Linked DNA regions of Homo sapiens. The protein of the gene in region 3 purifies or fractionates together with the protein of the main gene of each other region. This does not show direct contact. Each region holds a gene or a part of one and is shown on either strand. Other genes may lie near its edges. The genes, in order: ATP11C, LAMA4, BCAM and TMEM11.

Evidence for each region.
Region 1: the proteins of BCAM (region 3) and ATP11C purify together in Homo sapiens (affinity purification with mass spectrometry; 2 studies listed by BioGRID and IntAct, with this or other methods). This does not show direct contact.
Region 2: the proteins of BCAM (region 3) and LAMA4 purify together in Homo sapiens (affinity purification with mass spectrometry; 2 studies listed by BioGRID and IntAct, with this or other methods). This does not show direct contact.
Region 4: the proteins of BCAM (region 3) and TMEM11 purify together in Homo sapiens (affinity purification with mass spectrometry; 2 studies listed by BioGRID and IntAct, with this or other methods). This does not show direct contact.

Annotation. Positions count from the first base shown.
Region 1 is NC_000023.11:139,782,488-139,791,285, forward strand, and holds part of ATP11C (phospholipid-transporting ATPase IG), read right to left. Parts: intron 7,002-8,798; coding exon 6,840-7,001; intron 5,857-6,839; coding exon 5,705-5,856; intron 4,758-5,704; coding exon 4,686-4,757; intron 2,813-4,685; coding exon 2,739-2,812; intron 781-2,738; coding exon 677-780; intron 242-676; coding exon 60-241; intron 1-59. UniProt on the Homo sapiens protein: Catalytic component of a P4-ATPase flippase complex which catalyzes the hydrolysis of ATP coupled to the transport of aminophospholipids, phosphatidylserines (PS) and phosphatidylethanolamines (PE), from the outer to the inner leaflet of the plasma membrane.
Region 2 is NC_000006.12:112,131,442-112,140,239, forward strand, and holds part of LAMA4 (laminin subunit alpha-4 isoform 1 precursor), read right to left. Parts: intron 8,445-8,798; coding exon 8,311-8,444; intron 7,851-8,310; coding exon 7,679-7,850; intron 4,814-7,678; coding exon 4,682-4,813; intron 3,169-4,681; coding exon 3,026-3,168; intron 2,047-3,025; coding exon 1,908-2,046; intron 1,450-1,907; coding exon 1,312-1,449; intron 1-1,311. UniProt on the Homo sapiens protein: Binding to cells via a high affinity receptor, laminin is thought to mediate the attachment, migration and organization of cells into tissues during embryonic development by interacting with other extracellular matrix components.
Region 3 is NC_000019.10:44,817,805-44,822,421, reverse strand, and holds the end of BCAM (basal cell adhesion molecule isoform 1 precursor), read right to left. Parts: intron 3,901-4,617; coding exon 3,785-3,900; intron 3,682-3,784; coding exon 3,540-3,681; intron 3,367-3,539; coding exon 3,230-3,366; intron 3,077-3,229; coding exon 2,932-3,076; intron 2,841-2,931; coding exon 2,696-2,840; coding exon of another isoform or gene 2,692-2,695; exon of another isoform or gene 1,718-2,691; coding exon 1,600-1,717; intron 1,507-1,599; coding exon 1,501-1,506; 3' UTR 1,001-1,500; downstream 1-1,000. UniProt on the Homo sapiens protein: Transmembrane glycoprotein that functions as both a receptor and an adhesion molecule playing a crucial role in cell adhesion, motility, migration and invasion.
Region 4 is NC_000017.11:21,196,776-21,205,281, forward strand, and holds the end of TMEM11 (transmembrane protein 11, mitochondrial), read right to left. Parts: intron 2,066-8,506; coding exon 1,549-2,065; 3' UTR 1,179-1,548; downstream 1-1,178. UniProt on the Homo sapiens protein: Plays a role in mitochondrial morphogenesis.

The DNA.
Region 1 (8,798 bases), on a different chromosome or scaffold from region 3:
GGCAGATCACACCCAAAACACTGGTCATTAAAATAATAAGAGTATCATTTTCTAGTTACTTGTCTTCAACTGCAGTGGCTCCAATTAAATTCATGTTTGTCTCAATATCATCGAAAACTTTTTCCATTTTTTCTTCTCTGTCTTGTAAGGCCATTTTTGCCTCTATGAGCTGTCTGTTAATTCTTTCATAATCATCTGGAGCAATTTCTTTGAAGGCTACACAGAGTGTCCGATACCCATCCTAGGAGTAAAGTAGGAGATCTGTAGTTATTCTAATAATAGTTGGAAAAAAAAAAAAACACACTCTGTAAATACTCTTGCTTTAGCCATATGGACAAGAGAAATTCTGACACATATTTAGTCTGAAAAAATGAAGAAATTACAACTGAAAAGGTAACATTCAATTAGGTTCAGAAAAAGGAAGTAACAGTTCTTTTAACAAAGGTTGTTGAAAAGTCTTTTAAGGCTGCAAATTCTGACCTGAAACTTGCTCCAGGAAAATGTTTTATATTAAGATAAAAAAAAGTAATATTATCAAATCCCCAAATACAAAACATAGACCACAAAAATAAGCTAAAATGTATTTAAACTGTCATTTAAACAGAAATCCAATAAACATAGTCATTTTCAACATTTCTCTGCTTACTTATTGGTGGGGGAAGGAGTATAGGCTCACCATTGCATTACGTTCCACATGGACTTTAGTTAACTCAATTTCATGATTTTGCACTCTGGGAAAAACTGCCGAGTCTGCTCCTTTACAAAAGAGAAGTATGTCTCCTAAAATAAAGAACCATAGTACTTGACTTAGAATTTTAAGGCTGGTATTGTGGTTTTAGTAAGAGTAACTTTTAAAGCGGTCTCTCTCACCCAAGTGTTGTATATTCTGAGCACACCTTGCAATACTCACCTAAATGGAATGAGAAATCTTGGCCTTCAGTCTGTCAGAAAGGCATGTACCACCTCTTCAAGGTCATTATGAACACAATTAATAAGCCAGAGTTTACAATAGGCACCTCTGTTAAAATATACTTCCTCCCACCAATTCATGGAGGGCTGGGCTTGTGTCAAGGAGCTGCATCTGAATTTCTTCTGAAAATGTATGCCAGGTGCAGTGGCTCATGCCTGTAATCCCAGCATTGTGGGAGGCTGAAGTGGGAGGATCACTTAAGCTCAGGAGTTCAAGACCAGCCTGGGCAACACAGGGAGACCCTGACTCTACTAAAAATTAAAAAATTAGCCAGGCATGGTGGTACACACCTATAGACCCAACTACGCTGGATGCTGAGGTGGAAGGATTGCTTGAGCCCAGGATGTCAAGGCTGCAGTGAGCTATAATCTTGCCACTCCAGCCTAGATGACAGAGTAATACCGTGTCTTAAAAAAAAAAAAATGCAGTGAAGCCATGGCCTAGAGCACACATATGGCATCTACAGATGTCAAGAAGAAAGCTCAAGCTCAAACAAGCTGAAATAATTTTGAATAAACTATATTAACTAGCTTCTAAAACAATGGCTTGATAGTTTTTACTGATGAGAATAGCTTTGTAGAATGCTGGTATAATTGCAGCTTTAGATCACTTCACACACCCAGGAAATATTCACAGTTGTGCACTAAGACAGACACTTTATCCTTATAAGGGAAACAACCGAGGTCAACAAATTAAAAAGTGTAGCTCTGAGGTCAATGACCTTTGTAGACCAGTTCCACAGACATTTCACCATTTGCTGTAGAACATGTGGACATGCACACATAAGAATAGCAAGTATTTGAAATGTTGTGTTTTTTTTTTCATTTATTCTTACACATCCAAAGTGTATTTTAAAATTCACAAAACAAACTCCATGGTCACTTATTAAAATCAATTTCATGACTTTGCAATCACACCACAAAGTATGAATTAAGTGGGATATGTTCCCCCAAGGATCTGTCTGTATCCTCCCATTCTGACATTAAGGAATTTAGAAAATTTAATAGTAAAACGTAAATTACTGGGAAATAAATCAAAAATTTTTAGAAAACAAACCACCTCGGCACACCACACACACACGTATCTGAGAGCCTTCGAATAAAGCAGGATTGCTCGCCCATGGGTCTTGCAGAATCTGAGCAGAAGGCAAACCACCATGGTGCCTCCAAAGACATGAGGGAGCCCAGGATTACAGTACCAGTTCCCCTGCAAAGGGCAAGCTTTACTCTGCTCAACAAAGAACCTGAGCTCTGGAGTGAAACTGCAATGCCATTTCCCAGAAACCAGGCCCTTAGTCCTCTCTACCTCACCTGTTTCCAGGGAGTGTCAAGCAGTAGGGGAACCAGGAAGGTCAGTGAGGGATAACAAGCAACTCCCTATACTCAAGGATTCTGCTGCTAGTAATCCCAAACCATCCAACTATGCTGGGTGGCTGCATGTAAACATTACTGGTAGACTGGTCAGTACCCTGAACCATATAAAAGTCATCCTTTCAGTTCCTGTTCGAACACCCAAGGCAGAGGGATATGGTTCTGCTACCAAGAAAAGGCACACCCTGTCATAACAAGGGTTCTGTCACTAACAATTTGGTAAACAGAACATCTGTGCTTAAAAAAATACATGAAAGCATATGCAAAAGCTACTGCTTTGCATGACTTTCACTAATCCTACACTACTACATGAAATGATTCTCTTTCCTGAAAGAGTGAATCAACCAATAAGCCTACAAATCAACAAAGAGAAAAATTCAAGCTTTTCAGACATGTACCTTCTTGAGTCTTCACAATTACACTCATACGTCGCCGGACAGCATCAAAGTTTAAGGTGTGAAGAAGTTCATATCTTTAAGAGAAATGAGCAAAGTAAAAAACCTAGAATATACTGAGAAAAATAAAGCACAACAGAAATATGTTAAGATATTTAAACATCTTAAATCAACAGATAGCACTGGTTGTGTGCACAACTGGTACTTTCCTTTGTCTCAGAATTTCTCTGAACATAGAACATGCTGTCAGAGGACACCAGTGTTAGTTAAGGGGTATTTATAGCCCCTCAGTATATTACTTAAAATGGTAAGGAGAATGACCACATAAAAATGGAAGATAAAGAGCTGTCCCACCAAGCCATATTTGGAGGGGTCTAGAAACAGTCCCACTCTGCCAATTATTTTAGCAGCATTTATGTATGGAGTGCCAGGCACAGTGCTAGGTGCTGGGGAATAGAGGTGAATCTGCCTGAGTCCCTTCCCTTATGCGGGTCACCATATGATAAGGGAGACAGAGCATAATGAGATAACTACCCTTCTAGTTTCTCAAATACTGTAATAAAGGCACTTACAGGGAAGATATAAGAACACAGAAGGAAGTCATCTGAAAGGAGGTTTCCTGGAAGAGGACATGCCTGAGCTGGGTTCTGCAAGGGTAATATGATGAAGAAAGGGGGCCATGGCATTCTGAGTAGAGGGAATGAGCACGGCAGCATGAGAGCACATGGCCCATGGAAGACTTTAAGTAGTTCACCAATGCCCAAAAAACTCATCAATAGGGGAATAGTAAGAGATAAAGCAAGAAAGGTAAGCAGGGGCTGGAAACACATCTTTGTGAGCCATTTCTGGAATTTGGGATTGTATTGTAAGAGCAAAAGAAAGCCAATAAAAGGGTTTAAACAGTGGAATGACATGATGAGACTGGTCAAATGTGTGTGTGGATGGCTGAACTAATCAATGGAGAGACACAGAAGAGTTAAAATAAGAGTTGGTTATTAGAAAAAGTGAGAGGAAATATTTCCTTGAAAATAAACAACTAGTATTTTTTAAAAAAAGTATTTACTACATAGCTTGTTTTGGTGGGAGTGAGGGGGTCATTAGTCTTGCGGGAGTATATGTATAAGACATCTAACATGGCATCTGGTTTGCTGTTGGCCAGATGTGGGCACTGTTGCAGATGGGCTAGAATCTAAACTCTGACAATGACCCTGGGTCCCTGTCAGTCAGACCAAGAACCTTCCTCTGGGCTTCTATGAATCTCTCTCCAAAAGGGTGCATTACCCAAGTACCTGTAAACATATTACAGGTTTCTGAGATGGGTCTCAGGAGATCCTAGGGGCCAGAATGAAAGTCAGATAACATAATTATATTTCAAGTTCAGATGAGGAAATTCAAATTAATCACAGAGCCTAATTAAAATCCACCATTAAGATAAGGTGGCTTTGTTCATTAGGGTCTTTGTGGCAAAAGAGGAAATGTGAAGACACTGGAGCATCAGAGTACTTGCCCCGAGGCTCACACCTGAACATTCCGAACCAAACAAGGCTTCTGGTTTACAGCAAAGCTGCCTTTATTGCCTGGGCTTGCAATCCCAGAGTGATTGCTTGGACACTAGATAGCAGAAGGTTTCACATATATTCACTGATTTTTCCTGTAGCATGTGTTAGAGACCTGAAATGGCATCTAAATTTGAGAAACATTCCAGGCAAACTCTCATTCTGGCTACTGGACCCAGATGTGAACCAGATTGGAATTTCCACCTCAAACTCCAGTTTCTGCAATTCTATGTAACATGGCTTCTACCCCAACTATATTTACATAAAACTCTGAACTGGGAGAGCAGGGTCCTGTATTTTTAGTGGCATCATTTCCTTTGCTGCCCTGCCTGAATCCACTTAAATTTGACTATGGGGTTAAGAAATGACAAACATCAAACACAGAGCTACTTACTCTTCTATTTCTTTTCTTTGGTTCTCTACTCTCATATATCCATTTCGATTTCCTAAAAATGTGAACCCGTACCTATCAAAAACAATAAAAAAGACCTTGTGTATCTCTAAAGAATGATTAATTTTTTTATTATTATTTTTTTTGAGACAGAGTCTCGCTCTGTTGCCCAGGCTGGAGTGCAGTGGCGCGATCTCGGCTCACTGCAACCTTCACCTCCCAGTTTCAAGCGATTCTCCTGCCTCAACCTCCTGAGTAGCTGAGATTACAGGTGTGTGTCACCACACCCGGCTGATTTTTGTATTTTTAGTAGAGACAGAGTTTCACCATGTTGGCCAGGCTGGTCTTGAACTCCTGACCTCAGGTGATCCACCCGCCTTGGCCTCCCAAAGTGCTGGGATTACAGGCGTGAGCCACCGCACCTGGTCTAGAATGATTACTTTCAATGGGGTAACTCATGCTTGTTTATGCTTTTCTTCTCTTTCATATGATCTCAACATATAACTGTACTTTCTTTTCCTGGATAAGTTGATAACAGAGAAAGTCAATGCCCAGCCACAATTATTGTAACCAAGGGAGAGACAATTTGGGTTTCTGATTCTACGGCTAACACACTGGGTGACCTTTGAGCCACTTAATTATCTTGAACCTCATGGGTAAAACTGGACTTTCGGTTCTCAAATGATGTCAAAATTGCTGGGAGCACCTCAGAAATAACATGTGTTGTACAAAAAGTGGCCACTGTTATGTTATTTGCAAAACATAGTATGAACATTCAGACTTCTGGCTGGCATGCATAAATAGTAAGGCAAGTAATACCTACCTGTAACTATTTTCTTTTTAGTCTTAACTGGTTAGGTGTGGGAATTTTCCACAAATTTTTGGCTAAAGCAGTTGTGTTTTTTATTAAATAATAGGAGATGTATGTGCTAAGGTCACTGAAGCAAACGGAAAAAAACAAATAACTTCTGTCCTCCTGTGATTTCACTTTCTTAGGAGAAGTATAAGAAAGTATACTTTACCTTTTAGCTCCTTTCACCAAAGCTATTTCATCTGGTGAAGAGGAGATATAGGTTAATTCAGCTGATTCTGTAGCTCCATCAACAGCATCGTTTGTTTTGATTTCTACAGTATGACATAAACACAAGGCACGTAGAAACAGCTCTTCTCGATTCTGTGGAACAGCAACAAAATAATGATTATTATTTTTAATTTGATCACCCGGTAACTAGGCAGTGAACGGAGAAAATATATTAATGTGAGAGAATGTTGTAACTTCTAACAAACTTAGTAGCAGATACGTATAAATTCTTAACACTCAAATCTGCTATATATTCTCCTAGTACCTAATAAGAGTTCCTGGTTCTCAGCTAGCATACCCTATAGGCTGTGTTAACTCATTAAGGTTATTGTGGCACCACCTAAGCCAAAGCAGTGACTTCTTCATGGCCTAAAAAACTTCATTCAGTATCTAATTCACAATCTAGCAATAGCTCAAGTGTAGGGAGACTCTGGTTAATTTAATGCCTAGACACTCCTGAGACTTTAATCATTTGAACAGACATCATTCTTGGAGGAGCTTACATTTTAAAAGACAAAGCACAAAAAATTATGATCATACAGACAAGCAAGCTTTTACCCAAATGTCATTTCCCACAATTCTCTTTACTTGTAAATTCTACTCATTTACAAATTTCAGAAGTGTCAGTAAAACAAGAAAGGTGAATCCAACAATAGTTATTCTAAAGTCACTGGGCACAGTGGCTCATGCCTGTAATCCCAGCACTTTGGGGGACGGAGGGTGGTGGATTACCTGAGGTCAGGAGTTTGAGACCAGCCTGACCAACATGGTGAAACTCCGTTTCTACTAAAAATACAAAAAAATTAGCCAGGCATGGTGGCAGGCGCCTGTAATCCCAGCTACTCGGGAGGCTGAGGCAGGAGAATCGCTTGAACCTGGGAAGCGGAGGTTGCAGTGAGCTGAGATCATGCCACCGTACTCCAGCCTGGGCAACAGAGTGAGACTCCATCTCAAAAAAAAAAAACAAAAACACAAAAGTCTATGTCATGTGTCCACCTAAAAATTATTTTCTACTATGGAATGTTAACATGCATACACAGATTGGTTTCTTATATAAAACAATAATGCAAATGCACCTTATCTACTTTGTCAAAATATGTTAAAGTTCCATCAGTTTGAGATAATCCATCAACCTCTTGAGTTACACCTTTATATTTGTGGCCATCTATGCAGCATTCAATGAATTCCATGCTGTTTTCAGTGAGTGTTCCAGTCTTATCTGTAAATACATAATCCACCTAAAACAAGGACACAAACATATATTGTTAGTTTCTTCAGTGTGACTAATTTTTAGTTTGCTGTAACGCAAAGCTATTTTCATATCCATAGGAAATCACCCCTTCTAAGACTTCTTGTCAAATGTCAGGGAATTACAGAGACAATATTACCAAAGAAATGAGGAATAAATGAGTATTTTTAAAGACACCAAAATGCTATCACATGTCTAAGGTAGATCTACTCAAATGTAAAAGATGAATAGAAAAAAATGTGACTATTGGCCAGGCACGGTGGCTTATGCCTGTAGTCCCAGCACTTTGGGAGGCTGAGGCAGGAGGATTGCTTGAGCTCAGGAGTTCAAGACCAGCCTGGCCAACATGGTGAAACCCCGTCTCTACTAGAAATACAAAAATTAGCTGGGTGTGGTGGCACACACCTGAAATCCCAGCTACTTGGGAGGCTGAGGCACAAGAATTGCTTGAATCCAGGAGACAAAGGTTGCAGTGAGCTGAGATCACATCACTATACTCCAACCTGGGTGATAGAGTGAGACTCTGTCTCAGGAAAAAAAAAAAAAAGTGACTATTTTATCAAACTAAGAACGCTTCTCATTTAAGTTAACCTTTTTTAAGATAGGGTCTCACTCTGTCACTCAGGCTGGAATGCAGTAGCCATTATAGCTCACTATAACCTCAAACTTCTTGGCTCAAGCAATCCTCCCACCTCAGCCTCCCAAGTAGCTGGGACCACAGGCACGCACCACCACACCAGGCTAATTATTCTGTAATTTTTGTAGAGACAGCATCTCACTATGTTGCCCAGGCTGGTCCCATACTCCTGGGCTCAAGCCTTGGCCTCCCAAAGTGTTGGGATTATAGGCATGAGCCACCATGCCCAGCCAGTTAACCTGTTTGATGTAAAGAAGTTACATAAGTCAATTTTTCAAGTGGGAAGTAAGACTATACTGACCACTTATTTCTCTCTCTCTCTCTCACTCACACACACACACACACACACACACACACACACTCTTACACTTTGTGGGCTAGTACGTACATTACCCATTAAAAATTTTTTCCCAATAAATTAAATGGGATGTAACAAAATAAAACAGAAACTGATGAAGGTTTTTTTCCCCTTTTAAAAGTAAAATTTTCTATAAAAATACTGAATTAAAATAAAATGCACCACATCATATAATATACATAAGAATTAATAACAACATTAACAGTTACCTAATTGGAAGATACAGTATAGGTCAGTAGTGATCAAAACCATAACTGAAATTTCTTTCTTTTTACTATACATATTTTGAAAATACTCAAGTTTCCAAATTTAGAAAAAAAGCAGATAAAGTATAACACAAGTATATTTTCATAAATAATGGAAAATATAAGCCAAGAAATAAATTTGCCACTAAGATAAATCATTTTGAGCATTTCTATTTTATCTCGGTTTTTATCTCTTCTATTTTTAACATCTGGCTTTTGGAAACCCACAATTTTATCCTCGTTTTGGCAATTTATGCTTAAATAGTTAAAATTATGGGCTGATAGGAACAAGCATAAGGACAAGATTAAGGTTTTTATTATGTAAGGGAGAAAGAGATGAACTACAGCAGTAGTTGCTTTCTAATTATTTTTCAAAGCTTTTCACGGTAGCAGCACTGGCACAAATATAGCATTCCAATCTTTTTTTTTTTCTGTTAAGCCAGCCAAGTTTGAACTCTCTCTTTAAATTAATCCAAGTGGTATTACTTGTGTATCATTTAGATTCTTCCAGTTTAAATGAAATTCTTTGGGGCTTTTTTCTGATCA
Region 2 (8,798 bases), on a different chromosome or scaffold from region 3:
TGGGGATGTAGCTAGATGACTAGGCAAGGGTTAATTTACTAGTTTGGCTTTTTAAAATCTTTCACTTTTTCATCTAGAGGCAGAAGAGACATTTTTAAAAGCAAGTTAGCTCTTCTTATCTGAATTTGCTTATTGCTTGTCTTAAAATATTTGGCAAGGGTTAATCTTGCTTCTCTTTCCTTATATGGGCACCAACTTCTTAAGTCTGCCCTCAAAATAGACTACTTTTTATGGGCAAAAAGTGTTATTTAACTAACCAGGGTAGTCTGAGGCAGGTTTGGGTCAGAAGTTCTACAAAATGCTTTGGGTAAATTCTCACAAATTCTACTGATTCCAATTAAATTGGATATAAATGTGTCAGATGCAGGTAATATATATGAAAAGTGAAAGCTGCTTTCAGAAGTTATGTGATGACCTGGCACATCAGTGTATATATTGATGATGACCTTTTCAGAGACCCATCAGTTGGATCTTACAGTCACCAATCCTCTACAGACCTTAGTTTATTCTTGAAATAACGTATCTTTATAAGCTGAGCTCAAATGCTCTGTAGCAAATCTAAGAGAAGTATGTATGTTCTTTTTACTCTTTTATAAATTAAATCACAAATGTGTTTGTTCATTGCATACAAACAGGGACTCTTGAGAATTTTTGTGCCAGAAACACCTTTGGCATTTTGGTAACAGATAGCGACCGCTTCACAAAATAATGTTTTTAAATGTATAAAACAAAACATATAATAATACAAAGGAAACCAATCATACTGAAATACAGTTTTCAAAATATTAAAATAATCTGTGATATTATTATAACTTTTTTATTAAGGCATTAAAGAATAAGATTCCATAGCAGACCTAATAACATTAGAAGTAGCAATGAGCAAAAATGACATTCTGAGATTTCTGTGACAATTGTAATGTGAAACAAAAAAATCTGTGATTTCTATTAATGACAAAGTCACAGGTACTGGTAATACTACTGTGGTGTGTTGCCTAGAGTCATAATCAAAGAAAATGATCAATTTCAGTGAGAGAAAATAAAGATGTAATCTTTTCGCATTAAGTCCACAGACCCCCCTGAATTCTATCCATGAACCCTTGGGGGTGGGTCTATGAATTCCAGGTTAGGAACTTCTGATATACAATACATAGAATATTTTATAAAGTGTTTGAAATGAGGCATTCTGTGTGTCTACGTGTGAGTCAAAATTAATCTGAATAGAAAATCACTTCTAACATGCATTACAAATTATTTTTAATAGGCAAAACAATTATCACAAAGAAGTTTCCTCAGAGAAAAACAAACACTTACCCCTGAAGCATAATAGAATAGTAACCCATTTGGTTGTAATGTTCGGAAATTAAAACCTCCTTCAAAGCCATCAAAGAAAGATATTTTCTGAATTGAAGCAATGAAGCTCTGTCCATTGAAATATGCTCTGCGAGATATCTGTGTGCCAGAACAAGTGGAGATAGTGTTTTTGAGAATTATCAAATGCTTAAAACTATCAATGTTTCACATACGGAAGGCCTTGCCTGTTAATTTCTACGTAAATAGTTTATTTTCCCACTTCTGGTCTATGTTGGAATTCAGGCATACACTAGGAGCTCCTCTGAGAGATGGGGTTTCATCTTCTCCACTGACTCCAACCTGAGTGAACAATGATGCTAGCACACCCTCTCTGGGTGTTAGATGCCCCACCCATGGAAAACTGAAGCAAACGAACAAGTCACAGAGGAACCCCATGCACAAGAGCCCTTCTAGCTTAATGGTTCTTCTTTCTGGTGGTGGCAGAAAGGAACCCAAGGTGTACCTAGGATCAGAGAGAAGCTGAAAAGAACTTTTCCAGCTTTTGAGAGTGATAAGTATTGTGTCTATTAAAAAGCTTTTGACTGAGTGGTTCTTACAAGTGAGTCTTCTGGGCATCCATAACCAACTCCCAGGGTTTCTGTCTGCTCCAGTAAATTGAAGTCCTTCTTTTGGAACTGGAAGCCCTTCATGCATCCTCTGAAGTTGATATCTAGGGGAAGGTGTGCTCTGAGGGCCCTGGAAAAGAAAGTCAGCCTCACTGATACAGCCATGATGATGATGTTACCCTGCATATGTAGGCTATGGAATTTGCATTTATTTATAGTCATTTGTAATGGCTTTATAATCATTCATATTCTCATGCTTTCTTTGATAGGCACACAGCAATGTCTAATCTTTGCCTATAGAAGAGTTTTGTTCTACGTCAAGCCAATTTCTTCCTTACAGTTTTCAAAATGCTCTAACTTACATTATCTCATTTTATCTTTATAACAATTCAGTGAAATAGATGGAGATGCTATGATTTCCCTTTAGCAGACGATTATTAGGTTGAATCATAGGAACTAACATGTTACACAGAAATATAATCAATTCTTAGTAATTTCACAGGGTTTAACGTAATGAAACTAAGAAATGAAACTAAGAAATAAATTATTCTCTTATGTCACAAGTGATGTTAGGATTTGAACACAGGTCTTCAGACTTTTATTAATCCACGTCATTAATGAATCCATTTTGGCATTATTTCCAACACATCTGTAATCAACAAAGTTTAGGGGAGTGTCTTAATGTTTCATTATACATAATACACAACCCTTTGGATAACCTTAAAAATTTGTGTAGCTCAGATGCTATTGGAGAGTTCAAAATGGGTTTAAGGCTAAAGCAAAAGTAAATGGACAAATGCTGTTTTGTCTTCACACAATACACATGTTCCACCGTTCCTATTATTGATGAGAAATACTGCATTAGATCATGTTCTAAGAGTAATACAATAATTGAAGAAATCTGTGATTACATCTATGCGATGCTAATTTCAGGAGGTCCTGAGGACTGACTGCAGAGGGCCTGAAGGTACATGAATGTGTGTACCTGTGCCTGTCCCTGTGTGTAAAAGTAGCAAGTAAGGGTGCGTACACTGTTACTAGACCTCTCCTGGATGTTGCCAGCCCAGTACATTGCTAGGAACAAACAGCTACTTAACAAAAAGCCTTACCTGGATTGTAAGATTTCTGGAGGAGCTCCTCCAATGTATATATCTGTAAAAGGTATTTTCATCTTTTCATTATCCATGCTCTTGACATGCCTTCTGTCAACTACCAAGATCATTTTCTTATCATTGTGGTAAATGATTGAGATCTGGGAGAGATAATATATAGTAAGCCTTGATTAACTATTTAATATTCAGTTCTTTGATGACTTCTATATATTTTAATTCTCCTGGTATACTAGCTGTTCTTCCATGCCTTTGTGCTTGTTTGTTCACAAAATGGGGAATAGATAGATTTTCTTTTCTCACAGACTTGAAAACTCTTGCTTCTACAAGCAGCAGTTCACACTTTCTGGGAAAGGAGGTCTGTATGAAGAGGAGCCAGCCCAAGAAAAATTTTGCGATTAGACCTATTGTTTCCTCCTGCTCCTTCTGAGAGGATTCAGGAAAGAACTATAAACAGGTGCCACCATTCTCTTTTTTTTTAAAAAAACAACTTTATTCAAGTCTAGTTGACATACAAAGAACTACACATATTTTATGTATACAATTTGATGAGCTTGGACATATGCAAACACTCATATCATCTTACAATCAAGGTAAGAGACATATCACACATTTCCCAGCATTTCCTTGTGTCCCTTTGTGGTGTGTGTGTGTGTGTGAGCATGTGTGTTACGCACACTTAACATGAGATCTATCCTAAATAAATTTTAAATTAGTTTTAACTATAGGCTCCATGCTGTACAGCAGATTTCGAGAACTTACTCACCTAGCACAACTGAAACTGTATACACATTGAACAGCAATTTCTTATTTCCCTATCCCCTAACCCCTGGTGACCCCTATTGTATTCCCAAGCAGGTGCCTTCTGGAATCTAGATTGCATGTTACCAGGTGTAATTTTTTTGGTGACACAGTGAGCAGTTCTAATGAATCTGCAAAAATGCTAGTCAGAGAAATAGTTAAAATATTCTTTTATTGTAAACCATTCTCATGAGGCTATGGACTTTGAACTGAAAAGGGAAATACAGTCTCCTACCCTTCGCATTTTGGTTCAACTTAAAAGATATTATGCCTTGTATACACTTTATTAAGTTGTATATTTAAAATAGTTAATGAAAATGGATGAAGTATATTTTCAGTAGTCTGCACATCTGTTTCAAAACTAAAGGGGATTCTTTGTGAGTTCTCTTTATAAGGAAAACTGTGCTAGTATTTTCTAAATTCTGGATAAGTGGTTTAAAAGGAAATTCTGTATTTACTTATATGTATTCTTGTTAAATTTGGTGGGGCTCAAAGGATAAGCAAAAAAAGGCTGTGTATCTACACTCTGGCTCATTCAACAAATGTATAGAAGTATCCTGTAGGAATACCAATTGAGATATTTAAGATTAATAGAAGCCTTCTGGTTAATTAAGCAATTAAAAGGAATCTTTCAGTGACTTTTAAATTGGAACATCAACAGGAAAAATACATCCAATGTTTTAAAGTAAATGTTTTCCTAGGGTTGAGAAGATGAGGGTCCTTCAGTTGCTCTTTAGATATGAAAGTTCTCAGTTTATTTACCATCCTGCCTGTCTCATTTGACTGCCTGATTAGATCAACAGATCTAAGTATAAAGAACAAAAACAAAACCAACCAAACTACAATGATTTGTACCTCATGGTATTTTGCATCATTAATTTGAGCTTTCTTTAACGTATCTTCAAGATGCACAGGGCCACCGCTGAATCCAAAATCATAGAACACATGTAGGTAACCATTGCGCATTTCCAGTCTGAAAAACATACTCTGAGGAGAGAAAGGAATTGTAAGATAGGAACATCTGTTATGCGAGTAGAGTCAGATTTAGCTGAATTTGAGAAATAAGACTGTATTCTTTATTACTGGAACTATTTGAAGACTAAGAAAGTCTCATGAAATTCTTATGAAATAAAAGTGACAGTGTCTGGGAGTGGTGGCTCACACCTGTAATCCCAGCACTCTGGGAGGCCGAGGCAGGTGGATCACTTGAGGCCAGGAGTTTGAGACCAGCCTGGCCAACATGGCAAAACCTTATCTCTACTAAAAATACAAAAACTAGCCAGGCGTGGTGGTAGGCACCTGTAATCCCAGCTACTCAGGGGGCTGAGGCAAGAGAATCGCTTGAACCCGGGAGGTGGAAGTTACAGTGAGCCGAGATCGTGACACTGCACTCCAGCCTGGGCTACAGAACGAGACTCTGTCTCAAAAAAAAAAAAAAAAAGTGACAACTACTTCCATATCAGCAGCTATTTCTCTTATTAATACATAAAAGTTAATATTTATACACAGTGTAAAAATTCTTCTGTTTTCATTCTACTTTCTGAACTAATGGATGAAGTTTTAAGTCTACATTATTGCCTTTTAAGAAAATCTTGAAAATAGAGTATAGTATACCATGTTTATTCAACTGCCTTGTCTTTAGGAAACTTTTAAAAATTATAACAGGCCAACAGATGTGTCTGCATTTATTTTAGGTGAAAATTAGTAAAATTAAAAAATAATTTCAAGGTATACTGAAAAGAATTCTTCCATATTATCAGCAAATATGGATTTAAAAAAAGAAGGCCATTGCTGTATTGTTTTGAAACACTGGATTTATGTAAATAAATATAGAATTATTATGCACTTGGAACACATGATGTTTAAGAATCAAAGAAATTTTGTAACACTCAAATAATTTACTGGAGTTTTGCTTGTTTCAGAAGATAGTTCATAGATACAAGAAGTCAATGGATTTGAAAAATAAAGCATTGTGGCAAGGTCCCTATTCTATAGGAAGTGATCTCCTGAGTGGAGTTTGTACATTCCTGGGAGTGTGGAAAGCAGCCTACTGGAGTTTAGGAAGAAAATATTTCAACTTCTATTTATACTAATTTAAAAAAACCTGAAATAGAGAAGAAAATATTTCAACATCCATTTATACTCACTAAAAAATCTAAAATAGAGAAAGAAACTAACTTTTAATATTTAACACATGAATTATTGACTCTGGGCCTTCATTTTATCCTTTTGTCAGACTTTCACAAAATTCACATAATATGTGTGGCTTCCCAAGAGGGGTTCCACACTTGAAGAGTTGAAGGTAGCTCCTCATCCATTTCTTTGCTTCTAGCCTATTGCAATTTATTGCAGTTTACGTGTGGCTAGTTATATGGATTTAAGGCTGATATAACCGAAATAATAGAATATTTACACTCATTTTGTATTGAGATGTAGAGTGATGTGAAAACATTTTGAGACACACAGATATTTGCTGGCTACTTCCTACAAATTTCTGAAAATGCTGTTAAGTTTATAGAGGGTTACACATTTTTCTTTGTAACATGAATTATTCTAAATTTGTTGAACTTTATTCGTGATGACAAATGTCTGACAGTAGTATGAATCCTACTAGTTATTTCAAAAAAGAAACATACTGTCACATCAATGTAAGGGTATTATCATAATAATGGATGAGAAAGTAACTTTTTCTCCTTTTTTTTGAGGACGGTTATACTGTGGAGAGATGGTTTTTAAAAAATATGTTTGGGAATTTTTCTATTGTTGCTTTTGTTGATGGGAACAATGTAAATGCAATCCTACAAAAACTCTCCTATCAGCTCTATTAAAACATTTGAGGGAAGAAATTTCTAACCTTTAGAAAAATATTTCAAATAAAGATTTTCAATAGCTTTGAACCCTTTTATTAAAGTTTACAAAATGATACCTGGTTAGCTTACAAGAACTAATATTAGAAAAAAGGAAATACACCAATCAAATCTCAAAGACAACCTTTGCCACTTGGTGAATGTGATTGAAAACTATTTGAGTTAGTAGGCACAGCTAATGATATGGTTCTTTCATTTTTTATTTTTGTGAGGTGTCTTGTCTAGTTACAACCACCAATAAAATTACTGTTGAAATAAACTGGACTTAGGACAAGACTTTTGAATCACTGTGTCACAAAGAGTTTAAGGATTTTTGAAAATATTTAGCATACTTAATTACATTTTCTCACTAAAACTATTTTCTTTGAGCTGTACAGTAGATAAAGTACTATTAAAAATAATTTTAGTGAGAAAAACATTTCTGTATCATTAATAAATAAGTCAATTTAATCTTCATTTTAAATATATAATCTTTTATTTTATCTTTATATAATTTGTCCTTTATTACAAGCTTTGACTGTTTCATACTATATTTATATCTGTTTATAGTACACATGTATCATTTATAAACAAAGATATATATGTGTGTGTGTGTACATACATATATACTTACATACACACATACATATATACAAAGCATGCAAGCTTTGCTTTAAAATTGATTAGGGCATATGGTTTGGAAAAGTTAGGAGCCCAGTGCAAAATTTCTGCAGACACCCTGCTCATCTAGATCTTGGTTCTAATTTCCTCAAAGTTCTCTTAGTTTATTTATATCCAAAAATGTACTGTGGGGAAATGCATCTCAGGGTTGCTTTTATTTATTGCTGTCATTACTTTCCTGAAGAAGAAAATCCAATTTGACTTTCTAAACTAGAATTTCAGTTTGATGGCATGACACACTAGACCTGGGAAGGTTCCTGGAAACATGAGTAGCAGAAAGTAAAGGAAATAAAGGAGAAGTAGTAGGACTTGTATTTTTACTCACTCCATTGACCATCAGGAGAATAAGGCCGTTGTCAGCTGGTGTTCGAACTTCTATGTCAAAGCGAGTCACCTGACCAAATTTCCCTCTCCTTGTGATGTCTCTCACCACGGCATAACCGGAGCCATCGAAGAAGTAACTGGCAGCCCGACTCTGAGTGAAGGCCAGCTTATCTCTGAAATGGAAACACAACGGTCATTTGAACACTACAGTTTCTGTTATGCTTTTCAAGTGAAGCCCTTTTAACCCATTCTTCTAACATCTTCTGTGGACCTTACAACATTTAAATGAAGTCCTGTTGTCTGCAAGGAAGAGATAAAGAGGTATTTGTAGGTATGTTAAATGGATTGTTTTCTTCTGTATCCTGTGTGCTAAGACAACTGAAGTCTCCAGGGACACCCTAGTCTCTGGAATCCTTAATCAAGGCTGCAAACAAGTTGTTTAACACTTCATACTTGGGCATGCTCATCTATGATAGAGAACAGGTGAAGAGTTTTTTGCAGGTATGACTTATGTAGTTTCAAAACTGGCTTCCCCAAAGAAAAGTTTGAGAACCTGAATATTGACTCATACTTGTTCTATCTGCTGCTCTTGCATGAATATCCAAGTCTTTAGTACTCTTAACTGTCTCTTACCGGGCACATGGCACTGATGTGGAGGGGTCCATATTATAGATGTGCTTAAAGTTGTACAAGCTGATCACATCATTATTCAAAGTGGCCAGTTCCAGGCAGCCAACAAAGCCAGGCAGGTTTAAGCTGGTAGGGAGCTATGCAATAGAAAAAGTAAAACCACTTGTCTCATGGTCATATTTTACTCAGACATCACAGAACAGACAATGCAACTAATAGTAGGTCAAGGAGACCTACCCCTTTGTGGAAATATCTTTCTAGACCCGAGTGTGTTTATGCCAAATCATTTAGATATGGCGTAACTTGTCAGTTGTGCAAATCTTAGCAGAGAAAGTGGGATTTACTGAGCATAGATTATGTGCTGGTCATAGGCTGTACAGTGAATTCATGACAAAAATCAGTCCTTGCGCCAGCTTTGTTAGGTAGGTATTCTTGTTCTCATATAATGAGAGGGAAAATAATTCTCAGATAAATTCCAATTATGTGCCCAT
Region 3 (4,617 bases):
TTGACTCTACAGCTAAGAGGGAGCTTTTCCTCGCCCAGTTTCAATTCCCTCTGGGGCTCTGGCAAGACAGACTGGGAACTTTTACTTAAGGGGACAGCACCCATCTCCAGGCAGACGCTGGTCCTCGGGGGCCAAGCCCAGCACCCTCGGGACCTGGCATCTTTCCGTCCACCCCCGGCCAGCTAAGTCGCCCTCTGCGTGCTCACTCGCTCTCATGCTGTCATTTCTTTTTCTTTTCTTTTCACGGAGTGTCTCGCTCTGTCGCCCAGGCTGGAGTGCAGTGGTGCGATATCGGCTCACTGCAACCTCTGCCTCCTGGGTTCAAGATTTTCTCCTCCTCAGTTTCCCACGTAGCTGGGATTACAGGCTCGCGCCACCATGCCTGGCTAATTTTTTGTATTTTTAGTAGAGATGGGGTTTCACCATGTTGGCCAGGCTGGTCTCAAACTCCTGACCTAAAGTGATCCCCCTGCCTTGGTCTCCCAAAGTGCTGGGATTACAGGTTTGAGCCACTGAGCTTGGCCTCTTTTTGTTTTCTTCTTTTTTTTTAGAGATGAAGTCTCGCTTTGTCACCCAGGCTGGAGTGCAATGGCGTGATCATAGCTCACTGTAACCTCGTATTCCTGGGCTCAAGGAATCCTCCCACCTTAGCCTCCTGAATAGCTGGGACTATAGGCACACCTGGCTAATTTCTGTATTATTAGTATTATTATTTGTAGCGATGGGGTCTCCATATGTTGCCCAGGCTGGTCTTGAACTCCTGGCCTGAAGCCACCCTCCAGTGTCAGCCTCTTAAAGTGCTGGGATTACGGGCGTGAGCCACCACCACTGGGATTACAAGAATGAACCACGGCGCCCAGCCCTGTCTCATTTCTTTCTCCATGACATCAGGCGTCTTCTGAGGTCTTGCAAGGGGGCGGATGGGGGGGCAGCTGAGAGCAGGGAATCACCTGCATCGCCCTTCCCCTCCCTACTCCCAGAGGAAGCTCTGGCCACAGGATGGTGTTGATGTGACAAACAGCATTTATTCCAGACTCCAGTGTCCACAGATGATGGGGTGGGGCGGAGGTAGGGCGGGGGCAGGAGTGGGACCAGGGGCGGGGTGAGGGGGGGGAATCCAGTGTCAGACTCTGCAGCAAGACGTCAGGTGGGGGGACCAGCAGGGGAGGCGGGAGGTAAAAATAGCTCCGGCCAGCCGACCCTCGGAGCCTTGTCCCAGGCTGGGCCTTGGGCTTGGGTCCAGGAGCTATTCTGGGGCCTGGGAGAGTCACATTCCCTGGAGGAAGGCCCCCTCCCACCCACCCACCCTCCCTCTCCTTCCCTCCCGGAGGCAGGCAGCCACTGTGGGTCCCTGCCTTGCCGGCAGAGGAAGGAAGGGAGGGCTGGGCAGGGAGAGGGAAGAGGGAAGAGGGAAGGCGGGGGCGGGCATGGCGTGAGCAGGGCTGGTTCTCTGATGCCTGCAGCTCCAGGTCCAGGGACAGCCTCTAGGAGGTTCTTGGCTCAGCACTGGGGAGCGGATGGAGAGGTCAGCCTGTGCCCACGGGCGTGCTCCACTGCCCAGCAGGTCCCTCTCACCAGGGGGCCCAGGCCCTCACCCACCTCGTCTCCGAAGCCCCCGCTGCCACCCCTGGCTCCTCCGGAGGCACCTCCCATGAGAAGGCCGGTCTGCTCTGGTTGCTCCGACCCCGAGTGGCTCAGCCCTGGCTCCCCTGGCGGCCTGGGGGGAGGAGGCAGCGGGCGGAGGCGTCGTGTTGGAGGTGCACACGGCAGGGGGAGGAACTGAGGATGGGGGTGGGTGGGACTAGGATGCGGCTGGGGATGGAGGTGAGGATGGGGGTGTGCTGGGTGGGGATGGCATAGGGATGGGGTAGGGGCTGGTAATGGCACTGGGGTTAGGGTTGGGCATGGGGATGCAGATGCTATTGGGGTTGGAGGTGGGAATGTAGCTGGAGTTGGCTTTGGGATCGGTCTGGGATGGTTACGGATTGGAGGTGAGGACGGCCATGTGGTTGGGGCTGGAGACAAGGTTAGATGAGGAGGAGCTTGGGGAGGCTTAGGGGTTGGATTTGGAGTCAGGAATGGGGACAAGATTGGGGATGGGGACATGGGTGAAGTTGGCTTCGGGACGGTGGAGGACTAGGGTTGGGAAATGGCTAGGTGAGGGCTGGATGGTGAGAGATAGGCTTGGAGGATAAATTGGAGTTAAGGGTGAGCTCAGGGGGATGATGGGTGTTGGGGCTGGAGGTTGGGGGAGGATGGGGATGTGGCCAGGGCTGGAGAGGAGCTTAGTTGAGGATGGTTTGAAGGGGGTTATGGATTGGAGTTGAGGGGAGATTGGGGGCAGGGTTGGGATTGGAGACAGGCATGGAGTTGGGGATGAGGCTGAGCTAGGGGCAGGAGAGGTGATTAGGGAAGGGGATGGTGTTGAGTTTGGCTTGGGGATGGGTTTGGGGATGGCCCTGGGTTGGGTTTGGGGCTGCAGTTGGGGATGAGGATGAGTTGGGGATGGCTGTGGATTAGTCTGGGGCTGGGTTTGGGGCTGTAGTTGGGGATGAGGATGGGTTGGGGATGGAGGTGGATGTGGTGGGATGTGGGGTGGAGGATAAGATGTGGTTGAGGTTATGGGTTGAGCTTGGGGTTGAGGGTGGGGATGGGGTTAAGCTATGGTGGTCATTGCAGATAGCAGGCCACTCACGGAGCCCCCTTCTCCCGCCGCTGGCGGCAGCAGGGGCCCCCTTTGCGTCTCACGCAGTAGAAGACAGCAACGACGAGGAGCAGGAGGCCCACGCTGACGGCCACGGCCATGACGGCCACTCCAGCCTGGGAGGTCTGGGGGCTCACTGCAGGGACAGGATGGAGAGAGGCGTGGGTCAGGCAGTGGGCTCTGTCTGCCCCACACCCGGCTCCTCTGCCACCACCTCAGTCACTCACCGGTGCCGAAGTGGAAGACATGGCGCTTGTTCCCGTGGGGGTTGGAGGCTTCACAGGAGATGCCATCGCGGCTCAGGGCGCTGGTCACTTTCAGGGTCAGAGAGCTGCTCACCCAACCCTGCCGTCCGGGGATTGGCTCTGCGGGCTATGGAGGCTCCGATCAGGCCCCGGCTGGTGGGGTCAAGGGGTGGGGTCAAGGGCAGAGGTGAACGACGTCCAGTCTCCCAGGAAGTGGAAAGGAGGGTGTGATACTTGGATGAGTGAGAGGGGGCTCAGGGTGGAGAGGAAGGTCCCTTACGCTGCCCCCCAATTGGCTCCAGCTGAGTTTGGGGTCTGGATGGCCGCGGGCAGAGCAGATGAGTGTGACTTCGTCTCCTTCCCTCCAGCTGCCATCTGCCTTGGGCTCTATTTCCGCTGTCTTTAGCTCTGGCGAGCCTGTGGGTGGTGGGGATGGGAAGAAAGTGAAGGGAGAGGAGAGAGAGAGAGAAGAGAGGCATCGAGCAGAAGATGGAGTCCCCAGCCAGGGACTCAGGAACTCGTCCTGTTTGTCCAGGTCCCACACCCCACACTGTCCCCATCCAAGCCCACCCCCTCCCTGCCCCCTGAACCTTGGACCAGCAGCGTGAAGTTCTGGGTGCGGCTGAGGACCGGGACTGTGGGCAGGGAGGCCTCACATACGTAGGTGCCATTGGAATCGAAGGTGATAGAACTGAGCGACAGCATGGGGCCATCGCCCAGGGGAGTGGAGTCCTGGGAAGGGCAGAGGAGGAGGAGGACGCTGTGAGAGGGCGAGGAGTGAGGGGAGAGAGGAGGGTGCGAGTGCAGGGCCCGAGGGGGCTCCTCTCCCTCTCACCTTGGTCCAGCGTAGGGCAGGGGTGGGCAGGCCGTGCACGGAGCAGTTCACGACTGCACTGCTGTTTAGAGGTAAGGAAAGCACCTTCCCCTCGCTGAGCTCCAGGGGGTCCAGATCTGCAGTGGGGGACAGTCTGTCACTCGTCCCAGACCGCCACCCACTCAATTAGGGGCTCTCCAGGGGCGGTCGGGGGTGCAAACATGAATGGACAGTTGGAAGCAGAGAACAGCAAGTAATCCTCCTGGTTTACCCCATCTCCATGAAATCTCCATTCTCCCATCCAGGCTCTCCAACCAAAAATCTAGCAGTCTAACCCCAACATTGACATGCCCAAGTCAATTACTTTTCTTCAGAGCTGACATCTGAGCCCAAGGTTAATGAATAACCTTAGGTGTGGAAGGTGTCCCTTCTGTGACTTTAGCACACAAACCTTTTGCTCAAACCCCAACCTGTGGGGTAACCTCCCTGTTACCCCCAAACATCTTTTCTGCAAAGTTTTGTTTTTGAATAGAGACAAGGTGTTGCTATGTTGGCCAGGCTGGGTCTCAAACTCCTGGCCTCAAGTGATCCTCCTGTCTTGACCTCCCAAAAGTGCTAGGATCACAGGCGTGAGCCCCTGCTCCTGGCCTCAGCAAGTCTTTATCTGGTCTGCTCCCAGGACAAATCCTCTGGCTTCCTGCCACCTCTGGCCCCAGGTTTGACTGTCCCAACCACCTCTTCACTAGCCTGCTCCTCCCTCTTGTCCATCCTCCACTGAGCAGCTAGAGGGACCTCTTTAAAACATCCACTGGTCAGGCCGGGCACGGTGGCTCATGCCTATAACCCCAGCACTT
Region 4 (8,506 bases), on a different chromosome or scaffold from region 3:
AGGCCGAACCGGGCAGATCACTTGAGGCCAGGAGTTAGAGACCAGCCTGGCCAGCAAGGCGAAATCCCATCTATACTAAAAATACAAAAAGTATCCAGGTATGGTAGCACACAGCTATAGTCCCAGCTACTCGGGGCTGAGGCAGGAGAATCACTTGTACTCGGGAGGTGGAGGTTGCAGTGAGCTGAGATCACATCACTGCACTCCGTCCTGGGTGACAGCAAGACTCTGTCTCAAAAACAAAACAAAACAAAACAAAAGACTGGCCTTCAGAAGGAGGTGCCATGTGGCTCTTCAGGGATGAATGGGGCTTTAGGAAGGCAGAAGTGAAGACAGGCACCCCAGCCTTTTTGTGGAAGAGAGAATTTCCCATTTACCCAAAGCCTTAGAGCAAGCTTGTCCAATCACCAATCAGCAGCCCATGGGCCTCATGCAGCCCACGATGGCTTTGAATGTGGCCCAACACAAATTTGTAAACTTTCTTGAAACATTATTTTTTTGTGATTTTTTTTTTTTTTTAGCTCATCAGCTGTCGTTAGTGTATTTTATGTGTGGTCCAAGACAATTCTTTTTCCAATGTGGCACAGGGAAGTCAAGATTGGCCACCCCTGCCTTAGAGGAAATGTGGCAGGTGACACAGTCTACCTTCTGGTGTGAGGGAGAAGCACCGGCTTGGCTCCTGTGGAACAGCGAGCACTGAGGCCAGGGGGTGCTTCCAAGATTGCTCCGAGGGCTCTTCTGTCAGCCTAGGGCAATGGGTTAATAAACTCATGGTCCACAGTAGGAAGAGTTTTGGTGCTTCAAAGAAAACACAGGTGTTCAGATCTCTGAAGAGCGATCCTGGAGCCCAGAGTTCCCCACGTGAACTCAAGTGGACACCCAAAGGCCTCCAAGCCTCGTCACCTTATCCTACCATGTTCCTGAACAGCATGGTGGCAGTGATGGCCTTCGGAATGATGAGGCCAAGGTGAGCCAGGAGACTGCTCCTGGGCGGGGTTTGGCCCCAGGACTACCTTGGATCTAGGCTTGTCGTCGCTGTAAGTGGTAACACTGGGCCGCAGCTAGGAGCAGGGCAGGGTGGCTACCATGGCACCTGCTCCTTCCATGTGCAAGCCGCCACCCAGAGCAGATGTGCAGCAGCAGCTGCGGGCAGTCATGGAAAGAGAGAACAGCGGGAGTTGAAATTCTCATAATTTTAATGATCAATAGCTTCTGGTGGGCTCTGGATGGTACAGTTAAACAATAGACTTAAAGACCTCCCCCAAAGCACGTCCACACCCCCTCGGCAGCGTCTGCCTCCATCAGCATTCCACTGCCCAGTCGGACTTCCACAGCCTCAGACCCCCCTCTTGGGTTATGGAAATCCACATCTTAGTGTAATGAGCTGAAAAACCCTGGGTACACCCGTGATCTGTTATTTTTTAAAAATAACAAATACTAAGCCAAACACCTGCCCAGGCTCTGCTGCCTCACAGAGTGTGGCGATCTGAATACTCTGTTGTCTCTTGTGGGCCGGGTGGTTTTGCTTCGCTCCCTGTTCTACTGAAATCATACGGCATAGAGTTCGTAAATCTTCTTTACACAGTACACCAGGGCGGCCAGTGCTATCGTGTTGTGCAGTCTCTTTCTGTGCAGGTCGTCCTTCCGGACCAGCACCACCGGGGTGGAGGAGGTGAGTGTGTGCAGAGGCAGGCGCGACAGTTTATAGGCGTCGTACTCCACTTGGTACTTGCAGCAAGGGTCAAACTGCCAGGAGATCCCATAGAGGGTGCAGCAGGCCAGGCTCAGCACACCAGCGGGCAGGGAAATGTAGTGGGAATAATCTAAGGGCAGCGCCAACGGGGTGAAGAGGCAGGCGGTGCCCGCCAGCACGGCCGTCTTGTGCAGGCAGTTGCCCACGGTGATCCAGCGGGCTGTCTCGTCGCCAATGCGAGTGGGCTCAATCACAATGTACTTGTACTGGGCTTCCAGGGCCTGCTCCAGCTCGTACTCAAACTGGTCTTGGGCATTCTCCCCATTGTAGATCTCATGCACAATGTAGCAGTCTGTGGCCGACAAGCTCACCCTTTTGATGGAGGGGGCAGGAAAGGGAGAGAGAGAGAGAGACAGGATGATTAGGCTGAGGAGCACTTAACTGTGTTTCAGCGCTGGGGGAGGTCTGAGCCTGCACTGCGGAGAGCACATCTCACTTGGGTCCTCATCTCCTTTAAATCCCAACACAAGATAATCAGTAAAAAGGATTTTTCCTGAAAATAGTGAAATAAAGCTGGGTGTGGTGGCTCACACCTGTAATCCTAGCACTTTGGGAGGCCGGGGGGGCGGATCATGAGGTCAGGAGTTAGAGACCAGCCTGGCCAACATGGTGAAACCCTGTCTCTACTAAAGATACAAAAAAAAATTAGCCAGGTGTGGTGGCGCATGCCTATAATCCCTGTAATCTACTCGGGAGGCTGAGGCAGGAGAATCACTTGAACCTGGGAGGCGGAGCTTGCAGTGAGCCGAGATCGTGCCATTGCACTCCAGCCTGGGTGACAGGGCGAGACTCAGTCTCAGAAAAAAAAAAAAAAAAAAGATATAAAAAGGCAGGAAAAGCAGTGCCTCGACGTTTAACATGACAAACACAGGCCTGGTGGTTAGCCTAAGGCTGTGGACCAACTGATCTGAGTCAGCAAAGGAGCCTAAAGGGGAAAGAACGATTCGGCACAGAATCACAGGAGCACACACGGCAGCAGAGGGCCAACAGCCTGAAAGCCATTCTTAGTTAATCAGGGCAACTGCAAGAGGATTCTTCACTGGAAACCACAGACCTCAGGACAGATAATGCTAAGCCCTTGCCCTCCGCACGTTTCCTAAGTAGTCATCCTGGGCCTGCAGAACAGAGGCAGAAAGGAAGAGCTTTGCCTTGGGCGAATGAAATCCAAACTCCTTTGGCTCTCCTGGAGGCCAGGCTGCACAAGCCCTGGGTGCCCTTCCTGGGCCGGCAGCAGCCCCCAGCTCCTCCCCGCTGCGGAGGGGAGAAGAGGAGACCCAGGACACTAGCCCACTGCATAGGAAAAGCGACCCTTTCCTTGAATTAGGAAAAGACAACGCTTCAAGAACAGTAGTGGGCTCCAAATTTAGTAAGCAGGAGGGTCAACTGAGGGGCTTCAAAACATCCAGCCCAGCAATGCCACCAATTCTGGCCCTGTAGGCCCAGGCCCCTGCACCACCGGCAAATGCCACTCATTTGCATAAGAAACACTGCCACGGAGACCACACAAGGGGCTTTCCCCCCCGGGACTGGGGATGCATGTCATGACCCCAACCAGCAGGAGAGTAATCCACCACACGGAACGCTCAGCTCTGCAGCAAGGCCAGACGGCAGCCCGGCTGCAGCCCCAGCAGTGACCGTGGGCCAAGCTGCATTTCAGGCAGTCTTGCTTTTCTTGGTTTCAGGCCTCTGCGGTACAAATTTCCCACCCAAAGCAGAATCTTCTTCACCTGTGGCGGGCAGGCCTGAAGACAGGGCTATCCATGCCTTGTCATCTTTCCTTGGCTGGTTTCAGCTGAGACAGATCTCTCTGAATCTCCGCACCGTCACCCCACATCCTAGTTTTCCGTTATCTGCTCATCTGCAAGAAGTCTTTATCTGGGCCTTGACGGGGACACTGCTAGACATAGCTCTTGAGGCTGGATCAAGTTTTCCAACTCATGGCTCCCAAGGCTGCACAGAGCCATGTTCTGTCACATGCCTCAGGGAAAAGCTGCCCCTTCCCTCAGCACACCCTGGTCCCCAGGATGGTCGGACCCATCTGACTAAAGGACACAAGGCTCCAGGGACCTGCTGGTCACTGCTCCCCTGCTGGAGTCCATGCCCTTCCAACTGGGAGGCTCTGGAACACTGTACCAGGCAACACAAGGGTCAATGTGGCCCATGTACCTGAAGCTCCGAATGTGCCTGACAGGAACTAGCTTCCTTTCATGGCTAACGAGAAGCACAGCCCTCAGTGTGCACAGACGCGAAGGTCCCGTCCGCCCAGCCTGTCCTGGCAGGCACACCTGGCTGCGGTGCAGAGGAGAGTCATGGGGAGCTGAGCCACCTGGCCATTGGCCGTAATATGGGAGTGACGAGTGAAGACATTCATAACAAGCCACCCCAGAACCTCAGCCCAGCATGAAGGTAACTCCCTCCAGCCTCCTTCAAAGATGGGAGCAATTCCAAGTGAAGGATGGTGGAAATCGGACTGTCGGGAAACTTCAAGGAAAAAGAACAGGCAATCGTAGTTCTTCCTACTACTGAGACTCCTCCCAGCTCAAAGCTTTCAGCAAACAAATAAGCAAACCTAACAGGCAGGGTTGCATTCTGGTTGGATAAACAACTAGTTAACGATCTCATGTGGCCACATTAAAGATGAAAGTCATTGGTAATGGGCTGACTGTGCCCCCAAGCATGGGGACCCTAACCCCGCCCCTGGGTGGGAACCACTTTCATAAAAGGCACTGGCTTGGACTTGGGCAAACGGAACTCTTTATCCTGAAAAAGTCACTGTAACTAAGCCAGGCTAAGGCAAAGCCTCCTAATTCAATCATAGGCCCTAATTAAACGGCATGCACTGGGGAGAAATCAGTGCCCTGAGGGTGGGACAAGAGCCTCCTAAACATGGGTTGCTGCCAAGCCACCTGTGACTGTGCCAGTGTCACGGCTGCCTCGCCAGGGATGAAATGATGAGCTGTTACTGTAAGACTGCACGAGCAGCTTATGAAATGGGGAAAGGAGGGTTTTCCTTCTAAAGTTCTCGGTGGAGTTTTTCCATTTGGTCTTAGAGGAGAGGTAAGGGAGAGGCCAGCTGTTACTTCCAGGTAGGATTCAACAGTTTTTATTTTTGAGACAGGTTCCTGCTCTGTCACCCAGGCAGGAGTGCAGTGGTGTGATCTCTGCTGATGGCAGCCTCGACCTCCCGGGTTCAAGAGATCCTCCCACCTCTGCCTCCCGAGTAGCTGGGACTACAGGTATGTGCCACCACGCCTGGCTGCCTGGCTAATTAAAAAAATTTTGTTGTACAGATGGGGTTATGCCATGTTGCCCAGGCTGGTCTCGAACTCCTGGGCTCAAGTGTTCCACCCGCCTTGGCCTCCCAAAGTCCTGGGATTAACAGGCATGAGCTACCGCATCCAGCCAGATGCAGCATTTTAGAAGCTACCTACAGCAAACAAGCACACCCAAAGCAGGGTCTTCACTGGCGCTGGAAAGCTGAAGGCCGAGCAGTGCCCCCACGTGCTCAGATGAGAAATGAGTGGCGGTGGCGCAATGGGCTGGCTGTGGCCCTGGGTGTGCGGGGAGGGGCGGGGCCTCCACTCTCAGGTGGGAGCACTCCTGGCCAAGAGAACTCCCTTCTGGTCTCAAGTCCATCAGGCAACAGGAGCAGAGAGGCCAGATAACAAGGTAGGGGTGGAGGACCAAATCGTGTCCCAATCTTGAGACGGAAATGGAGTTGCTTCCAAGTCAGCTGTGCATCCTACTGACTGTCAAAGCCAGGCCAGGGACACCTTGGGGCGGGCACCAGAGGCGGGCTTCCTCCCTCAGGAACACTCAAAGCAAAAGGGAGGTGTCAAGCTGGGGTTACACAATGTTCTCGCCAACACCCAAATCCACCCTAGTGCGGTACCTTTCTCTGCCCAGCAGGCCAGCGCCATCCTGAATGTAGTGAAAACCACTGTTGGTCCCACAGAGGAAATTCCAGTGGAAACCCCGGTCCTGGAACCGACTGCCCCATCTGGAAACACAGCAGTGGGCAGATCCCACCCCCTCACCCCCTCCGGCCCCCCTGCAAGCCCAGCTGGCACCCACATCCACCCAGACCCCTCTGCAGGCTCCATCGCTTGCTGGGACGGATGGGTGGGTGCGTCCACGAGTCCCAACCAGCCTGGAAGCAGCGAGAAGCCAAGGCCCTCCAGGCTCCCTCCCACCTCACTGCTGTTGCCAGGTGTGGCCCGCCCCCCAGCACAGGGAGTGAGGAGACTGGGCATCCTCTGCCCTCGGCTGTGGGCAGTCCTGTGAATGACACAGCCATAAGCAAGCACGTGGACATGGGGGCACTCGCCAGCACACATCCTGAGATGGTGGCGTGGGTCTGCCCCCACCTGCCTGTCAAACCATGGCCCCGGCCTCCTGCAGCCTCGGCGTCTTCATATGGGCTGGGCACTGTTGCTGCCCACTGTCTAAGACACCTATCCACAGCAGAAACACAAAGGACATAAGCCACACTGCCTTCAAACAAAGGCAGGGTCCTGCACAACGGCGCTGAGGCCAGAGGCTCACCAATTCTGCTTTTAAAGCCAGTTAGGCAAAGGGAATCTCGGTTTCCACTGGGAAAGGACAACACGTGAAGTCTAGGGAAGTGGATTTCTAGGATTCTATAAGGCAACAGACCCTATATGGAGACGGTAAGGTTCAAACCAAAACACACACAGACGCACCCAAAGCCGCAGGATCCCTCCGTTGGAGCTCACCCGGCCACGACCAGGCAGTCAGCACTCCAACTTCCTGGTACACTGGTGGGAGTGGGGTGCTGTCAGTGCAGACACAGGTTTTTTAGCTGCCACTGCTGGGCCCTTGGGTTCAGGTCTGCACTGCTGACAGGGACTGCTGCACTTCTCTTACTTCAGAAATTCGTGGCCATGACCAGGTGCGGTGGCTCACGCCTGTAATCCCAGCACTTTGGGAGGCAAAGGTGTGCAGATCACTTGATGTCAGGAGTTCGAGACCAGCCTGGCCAACAAGGTGAAACCGTCTTTACCAAAAATTAGCCAGGCGCGGTGCTGCACACCTGTAATTACAGCTACTCAGCAGGCTGAGGCACAAGAATCACTTGAACCTGGGAGGCAGAGGTTGCAGTGAGCCAAGATTGTGCCACTGCACTCCAGCCTGAATGACAGAAAGAAAAAAAAGAAAAAAAAAGAAAAAAGAAACTGCCAAGTACTCCCAGGAGACAGCCACGTCCAGCCAGCTCCTGACCACCCAGCAGCCACCCGTATATGGCTTGCTTCTGCTTGTGGGTCAAACAAAACCTAATGAAGGAAAGAACCCAGTCAGAAGGTTATCTCAAACCACTGCAGAGCATCACCAGCTGCCCCCTAACTGGTAAGGCCATGGGCTTTAGGAACTGGGTGATCTGAACCCTGGTGCATGGGAGATCTTTTTTTTTCCTTTTTTTTTTTTTTTTTAAATTATATGGACTTTTTTTTTTTTTTTTAAGTAAGAGCTAGTTGGAATCTTTTGAGCCCTGGGCTTCCTAAGGGACTGTATTTTTGCTTTTCATTGCAGGTGTGAAATGACCAGTAAGAGAGCAATTAATAGAGTCTATGTTTAAAAAAAAAAAAAAAAAGAAAGAAAAAGTGGCCAGGTGCAGTGGCTCATGCCTGTAATCCCAGCACTTTGGGAGGCCAAGGCAGGCGGATCACCTGAGATCAGGAGTTCGAGACCAGCCTGGCTAACACGGTGAAACCCTGTCTCTGCTACAAATACAAAAATTAGCTGGGTTTGGTGGCACGTGCCTGTAATCCCAGCTACTTGGGAGCCTGAGGCAGAAGAATTGCTTGAACGCAGGAGGCGGAGGTTGCAGTGAGCTGAGATCATGCCATTGCACTCCAGCGTGGGCAACAAGTAAAACTCCGTCTCAATAAAAAAAAAAAAAAAAAAAAAAAAGAGAAAAAGGTAGCAGCAGTAACAGCAAAGTCTCCAACTGAAAGCAAGTTCAGGGGAAAAGGCAGGGTTCAGAAGAGTGTTTACAGTATGCTATACGTAGTGTATTTTTAAAAGTCTCTATTTGCTTTTATATGCACAGAACACTTCTGAAAGGATACACAAAGACCTGATTTTTATGACTGGTCACTAGGGAGGGAACTGAGGGGCTCAGGAAAGAAAAGGAAGGGAGGCTCTTTCTAGTAAATGACTTTTGATCCTTTTGAATCTGGCATGATCTCTGGTACTTAAAGATCACTGTCGGAAGTGGGTCTTAACATATGGAAGAAGAAAAGTAAAAGGATCAGTGTCATGATCCTAAACACATCATGCCAGCACTGAGGAAGCTTTGGATTCTCTGAGCCTTTAGTGCTGGGAGCAGGGGTCAGCCCGTTCCAGCACCTCAGGGGGACTGCTGCAGACACTGAATGGGACCGCTCTCTGCCGCCTCAGGATAGCTTGCAGGCACTCATAAAGTGGGCATCTTGAACTTCCTCCCTCAGCCTTCAACCAGAGTCAGCCTTCAGGCCCTCATCTCTCCACTTTTGAGCCCAACTCAATCAGCTCTCGCAGTCAGCAAAGGAATCCCCTGGCAACACTAGCATTCCAGTTAAAAGGCGGCCACAGTGAAAACTCAGCAGGGCAACTCCACGGCCCCTCTGGGATGTGGGCAGCCTGTGCCTGTCCCAGCAGCCACAGTCTGGAGGCGTCTCCCCAAAAGGCAAGAGCCGCACAAGAAGGTTCAGAGCAGAACTGTTCGGTGAGAGCAAAAGATGACAGGAGCGG